Regions from separate parts of the Homo sapiens genome. Here regions 2, 3 and 4 are each linked to region 1. Evidence: fine-mapped expression QTL. A gene starts in region 1. Each other region holds a variant in brackets. All regions are shown on one strand. Distances are from middle to middle.

Region 1 (5,190 bases):
GGCCCTTTTGCCCAGCGCCCCTTTACAGGTCACAGATTGCACTCTCCCTGCTCCCAAGCTGGAGTTTCAGAGCTGTGGGGGAGCTCAAAGGCATTTTGTCAGGGAAAGCTGATAGTTGGCCCCTCGGAGTCCACGTGCTAACCCGGCAGGCGCCGGCTGACTGGGCTCCTCCAGCGCCGGACGCGACCAGTGGGGGCCTGAAGGGCGGGGAAGGCAGAGACGTCAAAGTCGAGGCCTACCCTTCTTAAAGGCGCAGGCTAGGAGTACCCATCTCCCCGCCCGCCCCCCCCCGCCTCCACCCGCCCGCCCGCCCCCCTCCGCCACCGCCCGCGCGTGCTGGTTTCTCTGTTAGGACAAATAAGCAAGATAGCACAGAAGTTCTAAACGCGAAGTGGGTGGTGGGGCCTGGGGTACGGGGCTGCCCCGGGAAATAAAGTGTCTCCCTGACAAGCGGGATCGGAGAGGGCAGCGCTGGACTTAAGCCTTCCTGTCTCCCGGGGAGGCAGTGTGGAGCCCTGGGAAAAGCACCCGGCCGGTTCGAATCTCCGGCTCTTCACGTCGAGCCTCAGTTTCACTTTCTGTAAAACGGGGTAATCTATTTCTTTTTCAGACGGAGTTTCGCTCTTGTTGCCCAGGCTGGAGTGCAATGGCGCAGTCTCGGCTCACCGCAACCTCCGCCTTCCGGGTTTAAGCGATTCTCCTGCCTCAGCCTCTCGAGTGGCTGGGATTACTGGCATGCGCCACCACGCCCGGCTAATTTTTTGTATTTTTAGTAGAGACGAGGTTTCACCATGTTGGTCAGGCTGCTCTCGAACTCCTGACCTCTGGTGATCCGCCCGCCTCGGCCTCCAAAAAGGCTGGGATTACAGGCGTAAGCCACTGCGCCCGGCCTTTTTTTTTGAGACGGAGTGTTACTCTGTTGCCCAGGCTGGAATGCAGTGGTGCGATCTCGGCTCACTGCAACCTCCGCCGGCCGGGTTCAAGCGATTCTCCTGCCTCAGCCTCCCGAGTAGCTGGGATTACAGGCGCCAGCCATCATGCCCGGCTACTTTTGTATTTTTAGTAGAGACGGGGTTTCACCATGTTGGCCAGGCTGGTCTCGAACTCCTGACTTCAAGTGATCCGCCCGCCTCGGCCTCCTAAAGTGCTGGATTACAGGCGTGAGCCACCGCGCCCGGCCTGTGGTAATCTATTTCAACAATAACCTACTGCAAAGAGTTTTGAGACTCAGAAGAAATCACGATACGAGAGCAACCAACACCAAAACGTCGATGCCCTCCCGCACTCAGTGCTCTTCCTCTCCGCGCAGAGTCATTCCGGGCCTTAGGCGAGGTTGTGATTTGCCCAAGGTCACGCGAAGGTGGGATCTGGCTCCCCATGGCTCTCCCGTCTCCCCCGGCTTGCTCACGTCCCAGCCCGCCCGGCCCGGGCTGCAGCTCAGCTAACCCAGTGGCGCACACCCGCGCGGGGCCCTGTGGTTTACAAAGCGTTTTGCAGTTGCAGGCCTGTCCTGTAACCTGAAAAATGGGGGCGATGCTAAGGCCGGCGAGAGAAGTCGCCGCGAAGTTTTCAAGTCTCGGCGGGTAGCCCGGCAAGTAACTTCGTCGTTATTGTGTGGTCTCCCGGCGATCTCGAAGAACTCATTCTCACTGCCGCCGCCACGCACCTGAGGACACCGAGGAAGAGGGCCAGTGCGTCACCCTCGCCGTCCAGAAGGCGCTGGGGTTTCCAGTGCCGCGCGCGGCCGGGGCGGGGCTGGTGAAAATGCGCTGTTAAGGCCGGCGCGGCGGCTCACGCCTGGAATCCCAGCACTTTCGAAGACCGAGGTGGGCGGATCGCTTGAGCCCAGGAGTTCCAGACTAGCCTGGGCAAAATAGGGAGACAAAAATAAAAGTAACAAACCAGCCGGGCGTGGCGGCGCGCGCCTGTGGTCCCAGCTACTCCGGAGGCTGAGGCAGGAGGATCGCTTGAACCCGGGAGGTCAAGGCTGCAGTGAGCCTAGATCGCGCCACTGCCCTCCAGCCTCGGCGACAGAGCGAGGCTGAAAAAGATGCTGTCTAAAAAAAGATGCTGGAAGTGCGTGCTGCTGCCACGTTAAGCGCGACGTGGAGACCGCGAAGTTGGCCGGCAGCTCTCAGCGCTGGACAGGCATGGAACTCGCCCGCGCGGCCCCGTCAAGGGGGCGGGACCGTCGCAGGTCCGGGCGGAGACGCGAGTGGGCGGAGCCGGGGACACTCCGGGCTTGCGGCTGGTCGGCCCGCGGCGGGCGGGGCCTCGTGGCGCGGTGTAGGGGCGGGGCCCCCTTGGCTGCTTTCGGCGTCGGCCTAGGTGCGCTGCGAGCGCGCGCGGACCGCGCACAGGCGGCGGAGCCGGTATGGGCCCGCCTGACCCTGGGCGCCGCGCCGCACGAGCACCAGCCTAGAGCCAGGTAGGCGGCACTGGGCCGGGGCTGGGGGCGGAGACGGAAGCGGGGGTCTCCGGGCGGCCGTGCGAGCCAGGGCAGGTGCTGGGGCCGTCGAGCTGGCGTGGTCCCCCTCACCTGGCGGCTCTCCGCCGTTCGGGGCCGGGAGTGTCGCCGAGGGTCGGGGAGACGTCCTGGTCCTACGTTCCTACTTCCCGCTCTCCCGGCTGCGCCCCGGGCCTGCATTTTGGGGCGGGAACCCAGAGACTGCTCTTTCTCTCCGGGCCCCGGGTCTGGCCCGTCCGGCCGGGCGGGGAGGGCCGGGCATCCCAGCCCGCAGTCCTGAGGAGGCGACGGGCCCTTCTTGGTCACCGGATCTGTTTACACGTCACCCTCGATGCCCGGCCGTCCCTCCACGCCCAGTAACTTGGGCTCTCAGGTGCCTGCCCGGGGCCTTGGTGCTGGAGTGGGGGCTGTGGGGGCAGCACAGGTACTCTGATTTTGGGGCCACGAGGGCCAAATCCGCGCCTGCACGTAGGAGGTGCGCAGTGGACACGTGCGAGGTGGACGAGGGAAGGACCCTGGCTCCTACTGCATTCGAGCGATAGGTCTGGCACCCTAGCTTCCTTCGGAACCACTCCTGAGTGACCTTGGGCAGGCCACCTCGTCTCCCCGAGCCTTAGTTTTCCCCGGCGGAGGGGGGCGGACAGTCCCTGCTTTAGAGGTCATTGCCAGGGTTGTTGAGGCAACAGATGTTTCGAGGGCGGTGGATGAGGGTTGGGTTAAAGTCTCACAGTGGGCCGGGTGCGGTGGCTCACGCCTGTAATCCCAGTGCTTTGGGAGGCTGAGGCGGGCGGATCACGAGGTCAGGAGATCGAGATCATCTTGGCCAACATGGTGAAACCCTGTCTCTACTAAAAATGCAAAAATTAACTAGGCGTGGTGGTGCGCGCCTGTAGTCCCAGCTACTTGGGAGGCTGAAGCAAGAGAACCGCTTGAACGGGGGTGGATGTTGCAGTGAGCCAAGATGGTGCCACTGCACTCCAGCCTGGCAACAGTGCGCAGAGCGAGACGCCGTCTCAAAACAAAAGTCTCACAGTGGCCCAGCCTCCTTTCCTGCCATCCCTGGAGTTGTGGTCTGTTTGAGGTTTGGTTTTCAGGACTGAAGCTTCAAGATGGCTGACCAGGACCCTGCGGGCATCAGCCCCCTCCAGCAAATGGTGGCCTCAGGCACCGGGGCTGTGGTTACCTCTCTCTTCAGTAAGACCTAGGGGAGGTGGGGTGGGGGCGGGTGGGGATGGGGCAGACCGGAGATTGGAGGCTGTGTGGTCCTGGGGGAGGAGTCCTAGGGGTGGGGTCCTGAAAGGAGCCTTCAGACCCGCTTCCTCCCCCAGTGACACCCCTGGACGTGGTGAAGGTTCGCCTGCAGTCTCAGCGGCCCTCCATGGCCAGCGGTGAGTACCTGACCTGGAACTAGTGAGGGGTGGTGCCTGGGCAAAAGAAAGATCTCCCAGAGGCTGGCCGTGGTTTCTCATACCTGTAATCCCAGCGCTTTGGGAGGCTGAGGTGGGTGGATCACCTGAGATCAGGAGTTCAAGGCCAGCCTGGCCAACGTGGTGAAACTCTCTCACTACTAAAACTACAAAAATTAGCCGGGCTTGGTGGCATGCGCCTGTAGTCCCAGCTACCTGGGAGGCTGAGGCAGGAGAATCGCTTGAACCGGGAAGGTGGAGGTTGCAGTGAGCTGAGATTGTGCCACTATGCTCCAGGGTGGGCGACAGAGCAAGACTCCATCTCAAAAAATAAAATAAAAAGATCTCCCAGAGATGGGGTCCCTAGGGCGGGTGGGGGCTCTCCTGACTTGAGGGGCTGCCTTGTATTTTAGAGCTGATGCCTTCCTCCAGACTGTGGAGCCTCTCCTATACCAAATGTGAGTGCCCCAAGCCACAGGGAGCATGGGAGGGTGCAAGGGGGAGACAGTCCTTGTCCCTGTCCCCAGGGCACCAGTGGGCTCCACAGCCATGGACTAGCATATACTCCCAGGTCCTGCCAGCCAGTCCTGTGACCTGCACCAGAACATCCACACAGGGACCTGGCCTTTACTGGCCTTCCAGGGATAGGGGCCCACTGCCTCCCTGCAAGGTTCTAGGATCCTGTCATTATAATGCCCCCTGCCTTTCCCCAGTGCCCTCCTCTCTCCAATCCACAGGGAAGTGCCTCCTGTATTGCAATGGTGTCCTGGAGCCTCTGTACCTGTGCCCAAATGGTGCCCGCTGTGCCACCTGGTTTCAAGACCCTACCCGCTTCACTGGCACCATGGTGAGGAGCAGCTGGGTCCGTAGGGATTCGTCGGTGTCCGTGAGGAGTTCGGTCTGGCTGGGCAGCAGACCCAGGAGTAAAGGGATTGGGCAAGGCACGCAGAGGTAGCCGGTTCCGTCAGGAAGTGCTTCCGGAGAAGGCAGTACCTCCATGGGGTGTTTGTTTTCTTTTAGACAGAGTCTCGCTCTGTCACCCAGGCTGGAGTGCGGTGGTGTGATCTCAGCTCACTGCAACCTCTGTCTCCTGGGTTCAAGTGGTTCTCCTGTCTCAGCCTCCGAAGTAGCTGGGATTACAAGCGTGCACCACCACCTGCCGCTAATTTTTGTATTTTTAGTAGAGACAGGGTTTTGCCGTGTTGGCCAGGCTGGTCTCGAACTCCTGCCTCAAGTGATTTATCCGCCTTGGCCTCCCAAAGTGCTGGCTGGGATTACATATGTGAGCCACCGTGCCTGGCCTCCATAAGGTTTTTG
Region 2 (5,190 bases), 590 kb before region 1:
GCCTCTGCCAGTCTGTTTTGGGTTACTGAGCCTCTACCATATGCCAGGCACCCCCCAGGACACAGAGAGGTGTCTGACCTGGAAGGTGTGATATTGACGTGCACCCAAACATAGTGCCCGTAGAGAACACCACAGCTCAGAGCTTATATGTAGTGTGGGAGCCAGGAAAGACACTGTAGAGGGGGCATTTGGGCTAGGCAGGACAGGCACGCTGTGGACAGGAAGAGAAGAAGGGAGGGCCATTCCTAGTGGAGGACAGAGCCTGGAGGCAGAAAAGCACAGAGAGGCAGGGCCCCAAGATGCTAGCCTAGCCAGGGCACCTAGCTGAGGAGTGTGAGTGGCAGAAGCCACTGGTGTCTGAGCAGGGTGAGGGCCCGATGGGGCTGGGAGGACCTCCCTGCAGGCAGGGGAGAAAGGGCTATTAGAACCCAGGGTGAGGCCAGGCGAGGTGGCTCACACCTGTAATCCCAGCACTTTGGGAGGCCGAGGCATGCGGATCACCTGAGGTCAGCAGTTCAAGACTAGCCTGGTCAACATGGTGAAACCCCGTCTCTACTAAAAATACAAAATCAGCCGGGTGTAGTGGCGCATGCCTGTAATCCCAGCTACTCAGGTGGCTGGGGCAGGAGAATTGCTTGAACCTGGGAGGCAGAGGTTGCAGTGACCCGGGATTGTGCCACTGACTTCCAACCTGGGCGACAAGAGCAAGACTCTGTCTCAAAATAAAACAAAAAAAACAAAAAAACAAAAACACACAAAACACCCAGGCCTCCGCTCGCCTAAGACGACAGCGTTCAGTCCCGCAGATGCAGCTGTCAGTGTGGAAGGTTCTGGATTCTGTGGCACTGTTCATTCATTCGCTTGCTGACCAGGTGTTGTGCTAGGTGCTGAGGTCTGGCAGCCCGCTACCCTGCCCGCATCCATGGGTCACAGTTGTTGGGAAAAGTCCCAGCCAGGGCCAACGTCCTGGGGTTAACTGGGGTGCTGCTCACCTCCCTGATTTCCCAGAGCCCGTGCCTGCCCATGGGCCCACACAGCCCCCCATATGTGTCCCCCACCTAGTTTGCAGACCTGACAGACGCTGCTGCCCGCAACGCGGAGCTGCTCCGCCAGGCCAAGCACGAAGCCAACGACTACCGGCGCCAGTTGCAGTCCTTGACCTGCGACCTGGAGTCTCTGCGCGGCACGGTGAGCGCGGCCAGGGCAGGACGGGGACGGGCGGAGCAGGGACGGCCACCCCAGGAGATGCCAGGGGAGAAGGGCCAGGGACGAGGACCTGGGTCGAGGGCGGGGCCTGAACGTTACCCCCGGGCTAGAGGCGGGGCCTGGGGCCGGGGGCCGGGCCTCGAAACCTCCCCAAGTCGGGTCGGGGCTCCGCGGGACCGGCCGGCTCCATCCCACAGAACGAGTCCCTGGAGAGGCAGATGCGCGAGCAGGAGGAGCGGCACGTGCGGGAGGCGGCCAGTTATCAGGAGGCGCTGGCGCGGCTGGAGGAAGAGGGGCAGAGCCTCAAGGACGAGATGGCCCGCCACTTGCAGGAGTACCAGGACCTGCTCAATGTCAAGCTGGCCCTGGACATCGAGATCGCCACCTACAGGAAGCTGCTAGAGGGCGAGGAGAACCGGTGAGCCCTCATCACAGCCCCTGGGGAAGTCTCCCTGCTGCCTCACGGTAGAGCTCATCTTGCTCCCTTCAGGGACTGAGTCTTTTTCAGCCTTGTGTGCAGATCCCTTCCCACCTCAATGCCCAGCACAGTGCCTGCCTCACACATAGCAGGCAGTCACTAGATGTTTGATGACTGAATGGATGGATGGATTCAACCAATATTGATTAGGCCTCAAGGCCAAGGACTTGGGTCACCCTCCAAACTAAGAGGCATACTCCCCATCTTCCCAGCCAAGATTGGACTCCTCACCTCACCCATCTCTTCTGCCTCCTTGGAACTTTCTTCACCACTTTCCCCTCCCTTTTCCATCTTCCTTCAGATAGACATGCGCCCCTCCCAGATAACACTCAAGCCCCTTGCAGACGTTTGGAACTCCAGATAGCACGTTGGCTGCTGGGGAAAAAGCTAGGAGATGGAGTTAGACTTTCCTGGCAAGGAAAAGGGCGTTCAAGTTGTCATGATGGCCCCGCACCAAGACCCAGCCTAGGGGTGTCCCAGGCAGCCCGGGCAGCCCTCTCCCTCTGCTTTCTTTCAGGATCACCATTCCCGTGCAGACCTTCTCCAACCTGCAGATTCGAGGTCAGTACAGCAGGGCCTCGTGGGAAGGGCACTGGAGTCCTGCCCCCTCCTCCAGGGCCTGTAGGTTGCTCCAGACTGGGACTGAGGATCAGGGCAAAGGGATCCAGCTCTCCCTGGGGGCCTTCGTGACACTGCAGCGCTCCTAGCCAGAGCCTATCATACCAGGGTACTTCTAGGTGGGGCTTGCAGCTGCCCCTGTCCTGCTAGGCCCTGGTCCCTCTTCCCCTCCCTGCACCCCATTCGACAGCAGAACTGGGTGAGAGCTTGACATCTGCCCTGTCTGCAGATCCCTGAGCAAGCACTGCCCTTCTGAGTGTTTTCTGTTTTTGTTTTTTTAACTGCTTGTCACTACAGGGGGCAAAAGCACCAAAGACGGGGAAAATCACAAGGTCACAAGATATCTCAAAAGCCTCACAATACGAGTTATACCAATACAGGCTCACCAGATTGTAAATGGAACGCCGCCGGCT[C/T]GCGGTTAGCTGCCTGCCTCTCAGACACGGCGCTTTGCCCAGCTTGACAGGGAGTGAGCCTCACCCACCCCATCCTCCCAATCCCCCTGAGTTCCCTCTTCCCAGGCTTCCCCTAAAGGGCCTGGACTGCGTCATTTTCCCAGGAACTGCAGTGCCCAGCCCAGGACGTGGTACAGAGTAACTGTACATTAAACTGGCAGAGCTTGTTAGTGGTAAAGGTGGTGAGTCCTTGGGTGCGCAGTGGAGCTGCTCTGGGGCCTCTGAGCAAGCAGCAGCCTCTGTCTCACCTCTTCCTGTCACTGGGAGGGCCCCTTGGGTCTCGCTGTGCCTGGACGCCAGGCTCTCTGCTTTATTCTTTCATCCCTGAGGCTCCATCGCTCAGCTCAGTGCTGACTCAGTTCAGAGGATTCTTCCCTCAGGACCGCAGCTCTTGCAGTGAATAAAGTTTTATGTTCCCTGCTCTTAATGTTAAATATTAGTGAATGTGACGTGTTATATTTTTCTCTCTCGGGCGGGGCGGGGGGAGGGGGGAGCTAAATTACTTTTTACTTGCATTGGCCCTGAAATGATTCTTAGCTAAGGAACAAAATTCCTCTTCTTCTGGACTAGAATATTTAGGACCACTAGATATGCATGTCTCAGGACTTAATTCAGCATCAGAAAGGCTAACCAGGCTGACTAGTAGAGGTAATACTGCCAAATCCTAGATAGTCACAGGTCACTAAAGCACAGATAAATGGCAGAGAGAAGTAGGAAAGAGGAAAGGGGACAGGAAAGGGACCTATGTGTATTGAGCACTAATATGTGCCACATGTTTAACAGCCTTTATTTTAGTTAATTGTCTCCTCTCTCCCACCTAGAGAAGTAGGCCCCATCATCCTTATTTTACAGATGAGGAAACTGAGGCTGGGAGAGGTCAATTAACTTGCCCAGAGTCATGTGGCTGGTTGGTGGCTAAGTTGGGACTTCTTGAGCTCTGGTCTCCTGATCCTTCCTTCCTTCCTTCCTTCTTTTCTTCCTTCCTTCCTTCTTTCCTTCCTTCCTTCGGCAGAGCGTCCCTCTGTCACTCAGGCTGGAATGCAGTAGTGCAATCTTGGCTCACTGCAACCTCCACCTCCCAGGTTCAAGCAATTCTCGTGCCTCAGACTCCCGAGTAAGGGGATTACAGGTGCGAGCCACCACACCTGGCTAATCTTTCTTTTTCTTTCTTTCTTTCTTTCTTCCTTCCTTCCTTCCTTCCTTCCTTTCTCTTTCCTGCTTGCTTGCTTGCTTGCTTGCCTGCTTTCGACGGAGTCTTACTCTGTTGCTCAGGCTGGAGTGCAGTGGCACGATCGCAGCTTACTGCAACCTCCGCCTCCCAGGTTCAAGTGATTCTCCTCTCTCAGCCTCCTGAGTAGCTGGGACTACAGGCACCTGTCACCATGCCTGACTAATTTTTGTATTTTTAGTAGAGACAGGGTTTCACCATATTAGTCAGGCTGGTCTCAAACTCCTGACCTCAGGCGATCCACCTGCCTCGGCCTCCCAAAGTGCTGGGATTACAGGTGTGAGCCACCATGCCTGGCCTATTTTTTGTATTTTTAGTAGAGGTTTCACTATGTTGGCCAGGCTGGTCTCGAACTCCTGGCGTCAGGTGATCCACCTGCCTCAGCCTCCCAAAATGATGGCATTATAGGTGTGAGCCACCGCACCCCTCCTGGTCTCCTGATTTCAATACCGTGCTGGGTTTTCAGAAAGCCAGGTGCCAGGCCAGGGCTTGCAGAGGGGCTGAAATGAAGCCAGGCCAGAAGACAGAGCAGCCAGGACTCTGGCAGCAGCACTATTGGGATTTGGGGGCTCTCCAGCCCGTTTGGAAGAGCCTAGGCTCTCTCTGCTCGGTTGCATAGGTTCTCATACTCATGATGGGGAGGGGGGTGCGATGGGGAAGCCGGGCATGGGAGAGGATGGCTCATGCCCTGAAAGTCCATGAGAGGCCTCCTCTCCCCACATCTGCAGAAACCAGCCTGGACACCAAGTCTGTGTCAGAAGGCCACCTCAAGAGGAACATCGTGGTGAAGACCGTGGAGATGCGGGATGGAGAGGTAAGGAGGGATTTGGGCCCAGTCAGGCTCTGGCTGGCCCCAGGGATTCTCAAGGCCAGGCCATGGAGGAAAGCCTGGGGCTGGCACATAGAAGGTTCCCAGCAACTCCCAGTAGCTCCCCAGGGAATTCTGGAGGAGAGCAAGGAAACTGAATGTAATTCCGTTTCCTCAGTCCCTCCATAGGCTGTTCTAAGGGGAGCCTTGGTACCAAAGCCACTAGATGGGATCCTAATACACACTCTCTCTTTCTCACCCTCAAACTCGGGGGCCTTGCTTGCCAGGGAGAGAAAGAGAATTAAAGTTAGTAGCTTTCACTTCCAACTCTAGCAGACACAGTTGGGGATGGGGAGGGCTTTCCATTTCCAGCTTGGTAAAAGGAAACTACCAGGGGAAT
Region 3 (5,000 bases), 75 kb after region 1:
CGATAGAGGCCGGGGGTTGTGGCTCACGCCTGTAATCCCAGCACTTTGGGAGACTGAGGCAGGTGGGTCACCCTGTCCAACATGGTGAAACCACGTCTCTACTAAAATTACAAAATCAGCTGGGCGTGGTGTCGCACGCCTATAATCCCAGCTACTTGGGAGGCTGAGGCAGGAGAATTGCTTGAACCCAGGAGGCGGAGGTTGAAGTGAGCTGAGATTGCACCACTGCACTCCAGCCTGGGCAACAGAGTGAGACTCCGCCTCAAAAAAAAAAAAAAAAAAAAAAAAAAGACCCATAGGAATAGCTCCAGGCCAGGCGTGGGATCTCAACACTTTGGGAGGCCAAGGCAGGAGAATCACTTGAGCCCAGGAGTTCAAGACTAGCCTGGGCAACATAGTGAGACCTTGTCTCTACTAAAAATTAAAAAAAAAAAAAATGATCCAGGTGTGGTTGTATGTGCCTGTAGTTCCAGCAACTAGGGACACTGAAGCGGGAGGATCACTTGGGATCAGGAGGTTAAGTCTGTTGTGAGCCGAGATCACACTACTGCACTCTGGCTTGGGTGACAGAGCGAGATCCTGTCTCAAAAAAAAAAACAAAAAAAAAAAAAAAAAAAGAAAAGAAAAGGAAAAAAGAAATGGCTCCATATGGTGCCTGTGTTTTATTCCCAGCCCCAGATAGGGGCCTGACCCCCCACTGGTGCCAGGCCTCGGGCAACCTGGGCTGAGAGTGTGCGGCTCCCCCACAGGCCTGTCCATCCTCATGGAGCCCATCCTGTCCCGCATCCCCCTGGCTGTACTGTTTGGCATCTTCCTCTACATGGGGGTCACGTCGCTCAGCGGCATCCAGCTCTTTGACCGCATCTTGCTTCTGTTCAAGCCACCCAAGTATCACCCAGATGTGCCCTACGTCAAGCGGGTACAGGACCCTTTTCTGGCTGCCCAGCCTGGGGTGGTAGAGGGTGCTGGGGTGTGATAGGCACTGACCCCAGCCTCCGCCTGCAGGTGAAGACCTGGCGCATGCACTTATTCACGGGCATCCAGATCATCTGCCTGGCAGTGCTGTGGGTGGTGAAGTCCACGCCGGCCTCCCTGGCCCTGCCCTTCGTCCTCATCCTCACTGTGCCGCTGCGGCGCGTCCTGCTGCCGCTCATCTTCAGGAACGTGGAGCTTCAGTGTGTGAGTGGCTGCCTGGGCCTGGGGCACAAGAGCTGGGAGCATGCGAGGGGCGCGTCTCAGAACTAGGGCAGGCAGGACAGAGTCATGGGTAAAGTCTGGGGCTAGGGCTGGTGTCCAGGTTCTGGCCTGCTGTGTCCTAGCATATGATCTGGAGCACGGGGCCTTGTTTCTCTGTGTCTTCATTTTGCTCACCTGTAAAGGGGGAAATGATGGCACGACTGGGGAGAGCGTCAAGAGGCAGACAGGGTGTGCTGTGAGTGAGCTGGACCCCTAAGCAGCAAGTCCTGCCGTCTTCCGAGTCATTTGGGACAGAGTCACTCCTCTAATAGGATTCTTCCACAGGGTGACTCAGGTCACTGTGGGGCCGCCTTGGTGAAAAGGTCCCCTGCTCACCCTCTGCAGGCCCTCCCCTGCCAGGGTCCACATCCCCGGGGTTGCCTCTCACTTTGACAACGACTCATTTAGGCCAGTCCTAGCTGCTGGGGAGATAAAACAGGACTGGTCCAAGGTTCAAGACAGCCAGACCCTCTCCTAACTCCAGAGGTGCCTTTCGTGCCCGGGGAGGGCTCTTCTGGCCCCAGGGTCTCTCACCCTGTCTCTCTCCTGTCCCTCCCCTCCAGCTGGATGCTGATGATGCCAAGGCAACCTTTGATGAGGAGGAAGGTCGGGATGAATACGACGAAGTGGCCATGCCTGTGTGAGGGGCGGGCCCAGGCCCTAGACCCTCCCCCACCATTCCACATCCCCACCTTCCAAGGAAAAGCAGAAGTTCATGGGCACCTCATGGACTCCAGGATCCTCCTGGAGCAGCAGCTGAGGCCCCAGGGCTGTGGGTGGGGAAGGAAGGCGTGTCCAGGAGACCTTCCACAAAGGGTAGCCTGGCTTTTCTGGCTGGGGATGGCCGATGGGGCCCACATTAGGGGGTTTGTTGCACAGTCCCTCCTGTTGCCACACTTTCACTGGGGATCCCGTGCTGGAAGACTTAGATCTGAGCCCTCCCTCTTCCCAGCACAGGCAGGGGTAGAAGCAAAGG[C/A]AGGAGGTGGGTGAGCGGGTGGGGTGCTTGCTGTGTGACCTTGGGCAAGTCCCTTGACCTTTCCAGCCTATATTTCCTCTTCTGTAAAATGGGTATATTGATGATAATACCCACATTACAGGATGGTTACTGAGGACCAAAGATACATGTAAAATAGGGCTTTGTAAACTCCACAGGGACTGTTCTATAGCAGTCATCATTTGTCTTTGAACGTACCCAAGGTCACATAGCTGGGATTTGAACTGAGCCGTGCAGCTGGGATTTGAACCAGGCCTTCTGATTTCAAGGTCCGAGCTCTGTCCTCTGTCAGTCATGCGTCCACTTTCCCTTCCCCTGTGACTCCTCCCTTCCCCACTCTGCTCCCAGCCCCTACCTTGAGACCCTCTTCTCTGGGCCCAGAGAGAGGCGTCCTGGTGAGGACAAGGTACAGGCAAGGATGATCCAGGGATTGGGCCTGGGACTCAGGCCTCCTAAGTGTTTGGTTCCTCCCTCCAAACACTCATTAGTTCACTCATTCATTCATTCCACAAACATTTACTGAGGGCCCCGGAATCAGTGGACTCCGAGGGGACTGAGACAAGCCCTGCCCTGGGGTGGGGGTGGGGGGCAAGGTACAGTTGATTCTACATTTGGATAGGGAGTGGGGGAGGGTGGGAAGGTAGGGGCGGGAGAGTGAGGGGGTTTGTAATTTATTAATTGCGTATTTTCTAAGAGTTTTCAACATAGTTTGGCTTCACACACAACTTCAGGCCCCTCATTTGAGAGCCATTATCCTCAACTCCATCTAAACTGAATCTTGGGGAGAACCCAGATCTGACCAATTGGGGTAGGAGACAGCAGGCTCTCCAAGAACATGGGCAAATTTATTTTTTTATAAAACAAAAAGATAAAAAGAGTTGAAAGACGTGAAAGTGGTGAGAGATGGAGGAAACAGAATCAGGAAGTGGTAGAAAAGAGAGGAGGTGGCTGGGCGCAGTGGCTCACGTTTGTAATCCCAGCACTTTGGGAGGCCAAGTTGGGCGGATCATTTGAGGTCAGGAGTTTGAGACCAGCCTGGCCAACATGGTGAAACCCCGTTACTACTAAAAATACAAAAATTAGCTGGGTGTCTCGTGGCAGGCACCTGTAATCCCAGCTACTTAGAAGGCTGAGGCAAGAGAATCACCTGAACCCAGGAGGTGGAGGTTGCAGTGAGCCAAGATTGCACCACTGCACTCCAGCCTGGGCAACAGAGCGAGACCCTGTCTCAAAAAAAAAAAAAAAAAAAAAAAAAAAACGGAAGGAAACATCAGCCTTGGGGGCCACAGACTCAACATGTGTGTGTGGTGGGGTTCCAGCCCAACATAGAGTAACATTATTTGTACCTCCCAGGCTAGCTCAGTCCATGGGAGGCTCTCCTGTCCCTGAAAGCTGACACCCACCTTTCACCACTTCGCCCATGCTACAGTTCAGTTTCCTCGTCTGTAAAATGGGGATGATAATGGTACCTACCTTGCAGTGTTGTTATAAGGATTAAAGGAGACAGTGCAAGAAAAGGCCTTGGTTGGTGAAGAGCCCAACCTCGGAGGGGAGCTGCTGGGATCCTCCTTATCTTGACTGGGATGTCCCTGTCTCCCCCTCCCCTTGCTCCTTGAACATGGCCAAGGAAAGTGAAAAACAAAAATTATTCACTCTGCTAGCACCCTTCCCCTTGATGCCTGGGAATAGGTTTTGCCAATAAACGTATCTGTGTTGGAGTGGCTGCCTTGCCTGAATTCCCGTTCCCAGAGTCGGGGGTCCCGGGGGTCTTGGCTGAACTAGGTGGGCATGGTGTGTGTGGCACGGGCCTGGCACAGGGCTGCATCTATGCAGCAAGGGGAGCCAGGCTGAGGTGTGACCCTGAGCCCTAGGGTGGGAGGCCAGCACCCAGAGAGTGGGTAGGGAGCAAGAGATGAGATTATGCTCTGAGACTCCTTCCTCTCCTGAATAAGCAAGACCTGTGGGGGTGGGAGGAGGGACTGTAAGGGGACCTTGCCCCCTGCTCCTTATACTTGTGAGCCCCCAATTCCCTTTAGATCAGTGGACCCCTTACCGGGAAGCTGGACAGCACCTTTGACAGAGATGACCAGAGAAGAAAACAGAGGCCCAGAGAGGGCACATGGCCACACAGGCACAGCGTCTCCTGGCCAGCTTTCTGCTTACCCTCATCCTGGTCCCCTTTGGAGGCTCTGTCCCCTACCCCCAACCACTTCCAGCAATTCTAGGGTGTTGCTGGGCTAGGTGTCCCCCACCCCGGGAGAGGAGGGTTCCAGGACTGGACATCTGCCCTCCCTAGACTTCCAACGAGAGGTCAGTGCAGGGCTGGGCCGCCTGGCTTCCTGCCCTAGATCTATATTTACTGCCTATCCCCAGCTGACCCCTCCCAGGCTAGCCAGGGCAGCTGCCAAAGGGTCAGAGAGCTAACTCTGCCAGGGGAGAGCCGTCCCAGCGTCCACCTCCCACACACAGCAGCTGCAGATCCCCACAGCCCTGGCCCTGTCCCCAGGGCTTGCCAGACCCTCCATTCCCCACGTCCATGTACCCAGAAGTCAGGCTATGAGACAAGCCTGAAGAGAGCTCAGGCCACCGGCATCCCCAGGCCTCTTCCACAGGCTGGCTGTGCAACCTGGGAAAAGCCAGTCCCCTCTCTGGGTCTCCGTTTTCTACTGGGCTAATTCTTCCTGGTAGATCCTTTCCATCGCCTGGAAAAGGATCCTTTCCATCCTTTTCCAGCTCATCATATCTGGACTTAGGGGAATAAATGCTGCCT
Region 4 (5,190 bases), 97 kb before region 1:
ATCCCCCTGGGAGAGTTTAGAAGGGAAAAATAAATTGTTACACCTATAGGACAGTTCTGGCTTGTTAAAGAATTTCAAGCCATTTGATCTTGGGTGACTTTAACATAACTTACTAGGTTTTTGGGGGGTACAATAGTTGTATTTGTTAAACTTGTAAATTTATGAGCATTGGAATGATGTCTCCTAAGCTGGACTTGTTGAACTAAGATTTTTTTTTAGCCTTCATCTTCCACCAACCATAAGATTTCAGTGCACAGGTAAAAGGCAATCTTTGACCAAGTTTTATTCTTACTAGAACTGGAAGAATTTGTAAGCTGGTTGTGGTATTACACTTTTTTGGAACAGTCTCCCCCATTTAAATATACCTAACCAATTTAAGATTCTTCCACTAATGGACTTGTATTCAAGACAGCTTTTCAACTTACTACATACCTTTGGACATTCTTTTCTGTTTTTTTGAGACGGAGTTTTGCTCTTTCGCCCAAGCTGGAGTGCAGTGGTGGATCTCAGCTCACTGCAACCTCCACCTTCTGGTTTCAAGTGATTCTCCTGCCTCAGCCTCCTGAGTAGCTGGGATTACAGGTGCCTGCCACCATGCCCAGCTAATTTTTGTATTTTTAGTAGAGATGGGGCGAACTCCTGACCTCGTGATCCGCCCACCTCGGCCTCCCAAAGTGCTGGGATTACAGGTGTGAGCCACTGCGCCCGGCCGTGGACATTCTTTTAATACATTGTCAGCTTTGCTTGATTCGAAGAAGAGAAATTTATAGAGCATATATATATAGACAAGCTGTATTGGCAGTTACTTTTTTACTCTTTCAAAGACTGGTTTTTCAGGAAAGAAAAATTCAACAGTGAATACTTCTATCCAGGACCTTTTCCAGTTTTTCAAAGTATTTATAATTTAAAAATGTTAGGCCGGCCGGGTGCGGTGGCTCACGCTTGTAATCCCAGCACTTTGGGAGGCCGAGGCGGGCGGATCACGAGGTCAGGAGATCAAGACCACGGTGAAACCCTGTCTCTACTAAAAATACAAAAAATTAGCCGGGCCTGGTAGCGAGCGCCTGTAGTCCCAGCTACTCGGAGAGGCTGAGGCAGGAGAATGGCGTGAACCCGGGAGGCGGAGCTTGCAGTGAGCCGAGATCGCACCACTGCACTCCAGCCTGGGTGACAGAGCAAGACTCCGTCTCAAAAAAAAAAAAATTTTAGGCTAGGCACGGTGGCTCGCACCTGTAATCGCAGCACTTTGCAAAGCCAGGGCAGGAGGATCACTTGAGCCCAGGAGTTCGAGACCACCCTGAGCAATGTACAAGACCTGCCCCCCAATCTAAGCTAATTACAAAAAATGTAATTAGCTGGGTGTGGTGGCACATGTGTAATCGCAGCTACTCCAGAAGCCGAGGTGTTAGAATCGCTTGAGCCCAGGAGTTTGAGGTTGCAGTGAGCCATGATCATGCCACTGCACTTCACACTGGGCAACAGAGCAAGACCTTGTCTCAAAAAAACAAAACAAATAAAAAACTCTTTCAGATTATCTTTATTTAATTAAGACATTTAGTATCTAAGTATATACTCAAGTTTTGGGGTTCTTGAGAATTTTTTCAATTAAGAAATATCTGTGATATATTAACAGAAAAGATATTTTAGGTGGAAAAATGGCATTAGAAAGGTTAGGCCAGGTGCAGTGGCTCATGCCTATAATCCCAGCACTTTGGGAGGCTGAGATGGACAGAGTCACATGAAGCCAATTCGAGACCAGCCTGGCCAACATAGCAAAACCCTGTCTCTACTAAAACTACAAAAATTAGCCAGGCATGGTGGTGCACGCCTGTAATCCCAGCTGCTTGGGGGTTCGAGGCACGAGAATTGCCTGAACCTGGGAGGCGGATTTTGTGGTGAGGCAAGATCATGTCGCTGTACTTCAGCCTGGGTGACAGAGCAAGACCCTGTCTCAAAAAAAAAAAGAAAAAAGAAAAAGAAAGAAAGGTTACACACTAGTCGATGACTTCAGAGTCAAGTTTTAACTAGAAAAGAGGCCAGGTGCGGTGGCTCGTGCCT[G/A]TAATCCCAGCACTTTGGGAAGCTGAGGGGGAGTTCACCTGAGGTCAGGAGTTCCAGACCAGCCTGGCCAACATGGCGAAACCCCATCTCCATTGAAAATACAAAAATTAGCTGGGCATGGTAGTGTGCACCTGTAGTCCCAGCTTCTCAGGAGGCTGAGGCAAGAGAATCACTTGAATCCGGGAGGCAGAGGTTATAGTGAGCCGAGATCGTGCCACTGCACTCCAGCCTGGGTGACAGAGCGAGACTCCATCTCAAGAAAAGAAAAAAAAGGTTTTTTTGTTTGTTTGTTTTTCTTGAGATGGAGTTTCACTCTTGTTGCCCAGGCTGAAGTGCAATGGCGCGATCTCGGCTCACTGCAACCTCCGCCTCCTGGGTTCAAGCGATTCTCCTGCCTCAGCCCCCAGAGTAGCTGGAATTACAGGCATGCGCCACCACGCCCGGCTAATTTTTGTAAAGAAAAAAAAGTTTTAACTAGAAAACAATAGGCTGGGTGTGGTGGCTCACACAGTATAATCCCAGCACTTTGGAAGGCCAAGGCGGGCAGATCAGTTGAGGTCAGGAGTTCAAGACCAGCCTGTCCAACTTGGTGAAACCCCGTCTCTACTAAAAATAAAAAAAATTAGCCAGGCGTGGTGGCCTGGCTAGTAGTCCCAGCTGCTCGAGGCAGGAGAATTGCTTGAGTCTGGGAGGTGGAGGTTGCAGTGAGCCAAGATGGCACCACTGCACTCCAGCCTAAGTGACAGAGCAAGACTCCATCTCAAAAATAAAGAAAAAAGTAAACCAGGAAAAAGTATAATTCAAACTTCAATAATGTATAGACTTGCCTTTTAAGGGAAAAAAAGCAAAACAGATTTACAATGTAATAAAATTCACATTGACAGCATTAATGTGTTGTATGATAATGTTTTAGTGACACTGTCCTCAACCTGAATGTAGTAGAAATTGTTACATCTTTGGTTCATTTGAATTTGACATGTTTATTCTCCTGCACACCTTGTGTTACCTCAGCTCTCCCACCACTTTTCTCTATTGCATTTGCTCTCAAACTAGGGAGATTTTGTCACTCTGGAGGCACTTGGCAATGCCTCTGTACATTTTTGGTTGTCCCAACTAAGGGTGTGATACTACTGGCATCTAGTAGGTTGAGGCCAGCAATGCTGGTAACATCTACAATGCACAGAAAAGCTCCTTGAAACAAAGAGGCAAAATGGCAGTTAATAGTGCTGCAGTTGAAAACCCTATTCTATCAGAATTAATTAAAAACTTTCGTATATATATGATATTGTGGTGTCATTTGACCTTAGTACAAACAAATTATTGTCATTTTAAGTCCCAAGTTATGTTGTAAACATTTATAAAGTGCTCATCTAGGTGATCCAGAATATTCACTTATTACTCTTCTTTAGAGTACCATCAAAATAAAAATACAAAATTAAGGGTTACCCATGGAGAACTCATGGACTGCCTGTTCACTAATACAGAATATATATCTGTGATCCCTGGTCTAGGAAAAATCTTTAGCTGGTATGATGAATGAATGCATGTGAGTTTATTTCTTCATCTTAAAAGCTCATCTTACGCATTAAAAAAAAAAAAAACCATGTAGTACAAGTTTGGTTTTGGTTTTGGTTTTTGGTGAAATGTTCTTCATTTGCTTGAAAGGTAGGCTTTTTCACCTTTCTTCATACTGCTGTTCTAATGCAAACAGTAGGATCTCAAAACAGAATGTTATAAATATATAAACAAAAGAAGCACAGCACTAAATTTTTCATAGTTCGTCTCTTCCCTGAACTTGGAATGTCTGAGGAACCCACTGGGTGCAGTGGCTCATGCCTATAATCCCAGCTACTGAGGAGGCTGAGGCAGGAAGATCTGTTGAGGCCAGGAGTTCAAGGCTGCAGTGAGCTATGCTCGTGCCACTGCACCTCAGCCTGGGTGACAGAGCAAGACTCTGTCTCTCTAAAAAAAAAAAAAAAATTACCCTGATGTGGTGACACGCACATGTAGTGTAAGTCCGAGCTACTTGTGAGGCTAAGCCAGGAGGATCGCTTGAGCCCAGGAGTTTGAGGTTGCAATAAGCTGTGATCATGCCACTATACCCTAGCCTGGGTGACAGAGCAAGACCCTGTCTCGGACAACAAAAAAAAATAATTTCTAAGGAATCTTTAATTGACCTTGGTACAACACAGCCACATAACCCCTAACAGGAGGAAGGACATATTTTTCATTCCTCTTTGATGGACATGAACTTAACATACAAATGGACCTACCATTTTTCCAAATTCATGCTCTAAAATCATAAAGACACCCTGTCTTGTCTTCCAGGAAGGCACACAGGATTATTATGAATCTGAGATAATAGGTAAGTACTTTCAACCCTGTATTAGCAATCCCTAGTTTGCATCTTCTATCAGATTTTCACCATTAATATTTTTCAGAGAAATAATGTATTACGTTAGTAGTAAACTATAGTAGAGGCAGGATCCTAAACATACCCTTCTCTTTAATAAGCACAAATAATCTCTCCAAAAGGAGCTATATGGTCACCCTCATTCAAGGTTTGAGTTGTTTTTTTCCTGACAGGATGCGGGGGTGTTATGTGCCTCTTTATATTCACTAGTTTTTCTCAGGTTTTCCAAGATTTTACGAAGAGTTGTTAACACAAAAATATTAAGACCCAGCTTGATCTTCAGAGATACAGAAGCTGATTAAGTATTTTGGCTCTTTTCAGTAGTTTAACCCTAGTTTTCAAGTGATCGATGTTAATACATTTTGAAATCTCTAAGAGTAGGCCTTTCCATTTCTGAAGAAATCCAATATATGATTCCTTTTTACATGAGTTAATTCTGATAACACCTGAATGCTCAATAGACATTAGCACTGACTAGCCGGGCGCGGTGGCTCACGCCTGTAATCCCAGCACTTTGGGAGGCCGAGGCTGGCGGATCACAAGGTCAGGAGATCGAGACCATCCTGGCTAACATGGTGAAAACCCCTCTCTACTAAAAATACAAAAAAGCCGGGCGTGGCAGCACGTGCCTGTAGTCCCAGCTACTGGGGAGGCTGAGGCAGGAGAATTGCCTGAATCCGGGAGGTGGAAGTTGCAGTGAGCCAAGATCATGCCACTGC

Which allele goes with the higher level. Positions count from the first base shown, and alleles are read on the strand shown. Sizes are in standard deviations (SD) of each study's normalised expression. Not every link is listed here.
In carriers of allele C in region 3, the expression in B cells of the gene that starts at base 2,316 in region 1 tends to be lower than with A alone (small effect, 0.40 SD a copy in Fairfax 2012).

What was found. PIP is the estimated chance that this variant, and not a neighbour inherited with it, causes the effect.
Region 2: its variant is the best candidate, but not a certain one, in a credible set for the expression of SLC25A39 in gastroesophageal junction (GTEx, PIP 0.81).
Region 3: its variant is the best candidate, but not a certain one, in a credible set for the expression of SLC25A39 in B cells (Fairfax 2012, PIP 0.70).
Region 4: its variant is the best candidate, but not a certain one, in a credible set for the expression of SLC25A39 in lung (GTEx, PIP 0.85).

Annotation. Positions count from the first base shown.
Region 1 is chr17:44,321,949-44,327,138 of GRCh38, reverse strand. It overlaps SLC25A39 (solute carrier family 25 member 39), which reads left to right and starts at 2,316. Exons shown (of 12, transcript NM_001143780.3): 1 at 2,316-2,428; 2 at 3,562-3,661; 3 at 3,796-3,855; 4 at 4,287-4,331; 5 at 4,587-4,720. The coding sequence starts at 3,577. It overlaps LOC124904009 (a long non-coding RNA gene), which reads right to left and starts at 1,686. Exons shown (of 2, transcript XR_007065768.1): 1 at 1,518-1,686; 2 at 1-197. RefSeq lists enhancers at 444-543, 1,234-1,283, 542-1,393, 1,464-1,523, 1,574-1,653 and 1 more, a cis regulatory region at 1-569 and silencers at 2,104-2,533, 2,554-2,773.
Region 2 is chr17:44,907,670-44,912,859 of GRCh38, reverse strand. It overlaps GFAP (glial fibrillary acidic protein), which reads left to right. Exons shown (of 9, transcript NM_002055.5): 5 at 1,063-1,188; 6 at 1,404-1,624; 7 at 2,202-2,245; 8 at 4,711-4,796. Among named protein-coding and RNA genes, the nearest start is that of GFAP, 5.2 kb to the left of the region's middle. RefSeq lists a silencer at 1,285-1,354 and an enhancer at 1,565-1,674. The variant C/T (reference allele first, on the strand shown) is at 2,716.
Region 3 is chr17:44,247,338-44,252,337 of GRCh38, reverse strand. It overlaps SLC4A1 (solute carrier family 4 member 1 (Diego blood group)), which reads left to right. Exons shown (of 20, transcript NM_000342.4): 18 at 750-919; 19 at 1,006-1,179; 20 at 1,800-3,948. The coding sequence ends at 1,880. Among named protein-coding and RNA genes, the nearest start is that of SLC4A1, 18 kb to the left of the region's middle. The variant C/A (reference allele first, on the strand shown) is at 2,213.
Region 4 is chr17:44,418,508-44,423,697 of GRCh38, reverse strand. The region is part of intron 6 of GPATCH8 (G-patch domain containing 8); the gene reads left to right. Among named protein-coding and RNA genes, the nearest start is that of ITGA2B, 31 kb to the right of the region's middle. RefSeq lists an enhancer at 1,542-2,515. The variant G/A (reference allele first, on the strand shown) is at 2,059.